2 linked regions of the Homo sapiens genome follow. The protein of the gene in region 1 purifies or fractionates together with the protein of each later gene. This does not show direct contact. Each region holds a gene or a part of one and is shown in the gene's direction. Other genes may lie near its edges.

Region 1 (3,500 bases):
GTGTCTTTCTAGGAAATTCAGTTCATGAAGATAAGAAGTTTCTTGACAAATACATGCCCCAGTTCATGAAACATCTTCATTATAGAATAATTGATGTGAGCACTGTTAAAGAACTGTGCAGGTAAGGGCTATATTTAGGATCCATTAAATTACCTCATTTAGCATGTTTTAATTGAGAATTTGTGGAAAGTAATTGGATAGAGCTGTAGAACTAAGGCTACCAAGTGGGTTCATATCTTCCTCATCCCATTCTTGCTTGTATAGGACCTTAACTTACCCTGGACTGGTGAGAATTGGGAGCAACAACGTCAGACATGTTCCCAGTAAATAAGCCAATGCCTGGCACAAAATAAGTGCTCAATACATTTTCTGGATTAACTAATATTATGTGGAAGTCTTGTGACTGGGAACATATAGATGAAAAGCTCTTAAGTACTTTAGAAAATAGTGGATCGACATATGTGTAAAAAAACGCACCCTGAAAATATACTCTATGATGACTCCTATAGTGAAAATGTGCGTATGGACTAGTGAGGTCACAAGGGAAGCAGCATCTAACTGTGCTGGAGCAAGAGGAATGGGGAGTCAGAGAAACCTTTACATAGCAAGGAAATAGCTTTGAAATTGAGATGTGAAGAAGAGTGGAAGTCTTGCAGGCATTTTATTGAGGAGAGAGCATTCAGAGAGAGCAGACAGAAGTATAAGAATGTGAGGGAGCAGGAAGCTAAGGCAAAATGTGTTAAATGAATCCCAAAGCATTCATTAATGCTGGAGTGCAAAGCATGAGGTTGGAGAAGGTGGGAGGTGGTTCTAGGGCCTCAAGAGCTTGCACACCATGCCAGTGAAGTTCACTATGATCTTGCAAGGAATGGGGTTCCTTTGAGAAAGTGTAGGTAGAAGAGTGAGTGATAACGATCGTTCTGATTCGAAGGTGGCAAGAAAAGTGGTAGAAAGATAGAAAGGAGGCTTTTTTTTTTTTTTTTTTTTTTTGAGACGGAGTCTCGTTCTGTCGCCCAGGCGGGAGTGCTGTGGCGCGATCTCCGCTCACTGCAAGCTCCGCCTTCCGGATTCACGCCATTCTCCTGCCTCAGCCTCCCGAGTAGCTGGGACTACAGGCGCCCGCCACTGCGCCCGGCTAATTTTTTGTATTTTTAGTAGAGACGGGGTTTCACCGTGGTCTCGATCTCCTGACCTCGTGATCCGCCTGCCTCGGCCTCCCAAAGTGCTGGGATTACAGGCGTGAGCCACCGCGCCCGGCCTGAAAGGAGGCTTTTCTGCCATCTTGGGGAGAAGAATGAACTGGAGAAAGGGCAGGGCATGGAAATGAGGGGCTTGTATGATAAAAATGTGAGAGGGTCAGTTGACAGACACTCAGTGTTCGAATGAGGTGGTGTGAAAAGGAAGAGGTATAATGTTATTCTGATGTTTGTAGTTTGAGCAGCTTTGGTGGATGATGGCAGTGTTCAAATAAAAAGGAGAAGAAGAAGAGTAGATATGGTGGATGGGGCAGGGGAGGTGTTGACAATGGTGGGTGTGTTTTGATGTATGTTGAATTAGAAGTGTCTGGTAGATTTTTAGATGGAGATATCTAGTGGGCAGTTGCATATCCATGACAGAAACTCTAGGGAGGGCTGGGCTGGATTTCCAGATTTAGCAATCTTACACACTGATGAGCTTGCTCATAGAAAATATATAGAAGAAAGAGAGGAGAGGGTAGAAGATAGAGGCCCCGGCAAAGAAGCAACTTGAGAATCATGACTCAAATGCCATTTTCAATGTTAATGGATTACTTGAAGGAGGTAATTGTTCAGTATATTTGAGACAGCTTCCTTTGAGAGTTCCATTTCTGCTGTGTATAGACGCTGGTATCCAGAAGAATATGAATTTGCACCAAAGAAGGCTGCTTCTCATAGGTAAGTTTGAGTTCTACCAAGCGTTTTCCAGTCTGACACACACTTAACTCCCAAATTCCTGACTGCTTGAAATAATGTCCCTTAACTCTTTTTTCTCGGGGAAAAGATAAAGTTCAACTAGCATAAACATAACATTCTTTTACTGTTAGGAATTCTGGTCAGGATTCCAGTGTTCCATTCTGAGAGGGTTATATAGCCTTTATTGCTGTTTCAAAACTCTTAGATAGCTTGGTTTATAGGAATGATGAAACAATCTGTAATCTTTCTAGTAATGAACCGTGTTAACTTTCTTCCCACAGAAGATATGGACTTGCAGCCTTTTGAAATTAGAACACTTTTTGTGTGCAATTCTATAATACAGTTGCCTACTTTGACACTTGTTATAGTTTTTCTGATTGTTTCTCTTATGTCTGTAGCCTTAGGTACAAGTAGACAAGGAATTTAAAGATCTTGTATATTCATGTGTCCTGTACTGGTTCTTTTCTTTTTGATTTTGTAGTCTTTCAGGAGAAACATGAAACCTGATGGGAGGTTTAGCAGCTGGCTTCTAAGGGTAGCATTTATTAAACCATTTACTGAACCCCTATGATGTACCTTGCACAGTTATAGGCAAATAGAGAAAGACCAATCCCTAAAGAGTCTGGCATTCTTACATTATTTTATTGAGTGTATGTAGACTGTAGCACAGGCATACAGGCCTAGACTACCTTATCTGACACAACTGGGGTATGTTTTGATTTCAGAATTTTTCAGATTTTAGAAAGGTGTTACTACATCTGTATTGTTTATTATCTTGTAGCATCCCTAACAAGGTTTGAGAAGCAGCCCATAATAAAACACATAGGTATTCTGCAGTGAAACGTGTATATTCACACCAAATGGCATAAGTAATGATGACTGTCAATAGCCTCACATTAAGATTGCTCAGGTTTTGCTACATAATAGGTTCTGTAAGTACTGTGGGTTTTCAGGTGTGTTTTGGATTTCAGTTTTGTGGATAAGATATTGTGTGCCTTTATTTAGCCAGAGGCTATAATTTTGGCAGCTTCGGCTCTGACATATATCCAAGTCCTGGAAAGAAAGCAGATGGTTGCCTTAGCCACACAAATAATTGTCATAAAACTCTTGCACTAAAATTTGTGCAGGGAATTCTCTAGAAGTGGCCCTTGGCCCATGATTCAGAGTTTATTGATTTACTTGCACACTGTTCTAATAATCTTGGTTACCTGATTTCTCAGAATACAACAGATGAGAAACAACATATTGGAAGAAAAGAAAGGCTCTTAGATGGAGGCAGGCTGCCACTGATTATAGCACAAATCACCATGAGAGAGGAGGTAGATCCTCTGGTATGGTTAGGTACTGTTTGATAATTGATGTTTATTATGATGACTGAGTCATGACTTATGTTCAAGTGTGTCAGTCTGTTTTGTTGAGGGACATCATCAAGTATTGGGCAATGTTTCTCAAACTGTGTTCCATGAACTGTTTATAAGTATTCTACAAATGTGGTCGATTAAGTTTTAGAAATACTAAAATTTATTAATTTTAGAAAATTAATAAATTAGAAATATAGGACAGCTTCCT
Region 2 (3,500 bases), on another chromosome or scaffold:
CTTCTGGCCTCAAGAGGTCATTCCGCCTCAGCCTCCCACATGGCTGGACTACAGGCACAATCCACTGTGCCTTGCTAGAAAGAAATTTTGAAAACCGAAATGAAAATCCAAGTCCTATCAATTATAAAAGAAATTGACAAAAACTAGAGTCTTAGAAATTATGCATGCATTTTCCATAAGTAGTGTAGATCTGTAGATTCCCAAGTGCAGCTTGTGGATGCCTGCAGTGCTTATGCAGAGGATCACCATGCCCTTGACATTATTTGCTCCTGCCGATGGGATAGACACAGAGCAGCCATATTTCCCATATGCCATCTCCTTTTCCTTAATGGGTGTCTTTGCTTTCTTTCCTTCAGGAAAGTTTATATGGACTATAATGCAACGACTCCCCTGGAGCCAGAAGTTATCCAGGCCATGACCAAGGCCATGTGGGAAGCCTGGGGAAATCCCAGCAGCCCGTATTCAGCAGGTAATTCTAGAAGATGCACGTGTTCACTGATGGGAGATAATGGGGATGGGGCGCTCTTAGAGAAATTGCACACCCACACGTGACGGCTTTGTTTTGAATAGGTTTCTGTTAGCTGCAATTCTTGAGCTGTAATTTTTGATAGTTTCTTTTCTGGGAAGGCCCCATTTGTAAGCTGAGCCTTGTCGATACTGTAATCTTTAACCTTTAATGTTTAATCTTTAACATGCTGTCCTGTCACCCTTTCCCAGATGAGAAAGGTGTCTACTGAGAGTTCCTTGAAGTAGCAGTCAGTACCTGTGGAGCACTTCACAGATCTAGCTCAGTCAATCCTTACAGAATTTGCAAAATATGTCTTTTAGGTCATCAGGATAACATATAATCCTGGCCCTTTTTAAAGATGAAAATTACTTTTTCATTAATTACTTTAGTTATGAATATTCTTATTTGTTTCCAATTTATTCTTATTGTAATGTAGACCATTAAATTGGAGGTTTTGGAGAAGAATTTGCTTCAAGTCAGTTATATGACAGAGTTACATTCTGTTTTTCAGACAGATGAGCAAGCTAAAGTCTTACCTTTCTTATTTCATGTTTATGAGAGATAATTAAGATAAACTGTGTTAACTGTGGATGATGATGAACTAAATTAACTTCAAACAGAATATTGCCAGGCCATACGATTTAGTAACACTTGCGTACAATTTACAGGTTTAATACGTTCTCCTATCCATTTGCTTATTAAACGTTTCACGGCAACTTAATAACAAAGCCCTTCAGCTCAGATACTAGTCATTCATTAACTTATTTGTTGGCTTATTTGTTGGTCTATTCTGGCTAATCTTCTGCACATTGCCTCGTATCCAGTCTCTCCTCTAGTAAAATTGAAATTTCTGACGTATTAGACTTGAAAATATGGAGAATAATTAAATGCCGATGACAGGCATTGTCTCATGAAAAAGTCTGGGAATCGCTCTCAGGGAGAAATCATGTTCTGGACCTGAATGAAGCCTGGCAGTGGCTTTTAGGTTTCCTTGATAGCCTTTGTTTCCACAAATTAAGAACCATAAACTCAAAAGTGTTGCAGTTCACTTTGTGTTGCTACTCAGATCGAAATGCAAAAGAAAAAAAATCAATTTATAGAGTGGTTTAATTATTTTCACAATATTGTTATTTAAACTAATAATATTTTATTTTATTATTATTATTATTATTATTATTATTATTTTGAGATTGAGTCTCGCTCTCGCCCAGGCTGGAGTGCAGTGGTGCAATCTCGGGTCAATGCAACCTCCGCCTCCCGGATTCAAGCGATTCTTCTGCCTCAGCCTCCCAAGTAGCTGGGACTAGAGGCACGCGCCACCATGCCTGGCTAATTTTTGTATTTTTAGTAGAGACGGGGTTTCACCATCTTGGCCAGGCTGGTCTTGAACTCCTGACCTTGTGATCCACCCACCTCGGCCTCCCACAGTGCTGGGATTACAGGTGTGAGCCACCATGCCCAGCCTAAATATTATCTAAAGCCTTTGAGGGAAATTTATTTTAAGGAATATGTTGAGGATGTGGGGATTTTACATACCTAAGATATTTATCACAGTCTTGCTTATAATAGCAAAACAAACAAAAACCCTGAAAATAAGCTCAGCATTCATGAATTTTTATGAAAAATAAACTATCTTCGGCAAAACAAGAAACCTAGTGAGCATTGCACTGTTGTGCATGTGGAAGTCTCTTTACTGCCTGTTGCTGGAAGATAGCTGGCGCTCATACCTCCCCGTCCAGCCCACTGCAGTCACATCATAGTGACGGAAGCCTCTGGAAGGTTCACCATATACCTGTGAGAAAAGGAGCGTGAAAAAGGCAGTTCTTCTCTTAGTATCATCATGAAAACAGTTTTGACTTTGTGGACCTCCTGAGAGGGCCTTGGGGTTTTGGAAACCGCTGACGTAAGCAGCACTGACTGAGCACCAGCTGTGTACTCAGCACCCTGTTGGGGGAGGGATGAAGCACGGTGCCCAAAATGTATTTGGGTTTTCGAGGCATTACTTTGTCCACTATGTGGAGAATGGACCCTGGTGGGGGCCTGCTAGGAGAACATCACAGCAGTGGCCTTGGCTTGGTTGGTGGCTGGGCGGTGGAGAGGCAGAGTCAGGTTTGGAACATCGTTTGAACACAGAGCCTACAGCATTTGCTGGTGGATTAATTGGCGGGGAATGAAAAGGGAAAGAGCCCACGCTTTTGCCCTGGGCTGCTGAGGGATGGAGTTGCCATTTCCTGAGTGTATTAGTCTGTTCTCATGCTGCTAATGAAGATGTACCTGAGACTGGGTAATTTATAAAGGAAAGAGGTTTAATTGACTCACAGTTTCCCATGGCTGGGGAGGCCCCACAATCACGGAGGAAGGCGAAAGAGGAGCAAAGTCACATCTTACATGGCAGCAGAGAAGAGTGTGCGTGCAGGGGAGCTCCCCTTTATAAAACCATCAGATTTCATGAGACTGATTCACTATCACGAGACTAGCATGGGAAAGACCTGCCGCCATGATTCAGTTACCTCCCACCGGGTCCCTCTGATGACGTGGGAATTATGGGAGCTACAATTCAAGATGAGATTTGGGTGGGGACACAGCCAAACCATTATCACTGAGAGAGGGAAGGCTGAGAGTGAGGGTGACAGTTTATTACGGTGACTTTTAGTGTCACCAAGAAAAATGATGGAGTTTTCCTAAACACCACTTAGGTGTTTAGGAAACTACTACTAAAACTGACATCTATACAGTAGCGTTAAGGAGCAGCAGAATTACTTTGCATATTTATTTTACCTCAGCTTTTTATATTTCTCTTTTTTATGATGTTTCGTAATAGTATATGTTTTAGCGGTGCCTGCTCAATTTTTTCTTATTTTTAAATAAGACTGAATGGTCAAAAAAGTTTGGGGACTCCTGGTGTGTACACTAAGAATGGTCACTGAAACTTTCGGCATTCCCATGCCAGAGCCTTTCCTTCTTTGCCCCATCAAGCATGGTTGCTGTGTTT

Evidence for each region. Proteins that work in one complex are often made in the same cells at the same time.
Region 2: the proteins of REXO2 (region 1) and SCLY fractionate together in Homo sapiens (co-fractionation; one large-scale study listed by BioGRID). This does not show direct contact.

The regions. Positions count from the first base shown.
Region 1 is NC_000011.10:114,445,967-114,449,466, forward strand, and holds part of REXO2 (oligoribonuclease, mitochondrial precursor), read left to right. Parts: intron 1-12; coding exon 13-121; intron 122-1,859; coding exon 1,860-1,913; intron 1,914-3,500. UniProt on the Homo sapiens protein: 3'-to-5'exoribonuclease that preferentially degrades DNA and RNA oligonucleotides composed of only two nucleotides. Binds and degrades longer oligonucleotides with a lower affinity.
Region 2 is NC_000002.12:238,064,001-238,067,500, forward strand, and holds part of SCLY (selenocysteine lyase), read left to right. Parts: intron 1-356; coding exon 357-469; intron 470-3,500. UniProt on the Homo sapiens protein: Catalyzes the decomposition of L-selenocysteine to L-alanine and elemental selenium.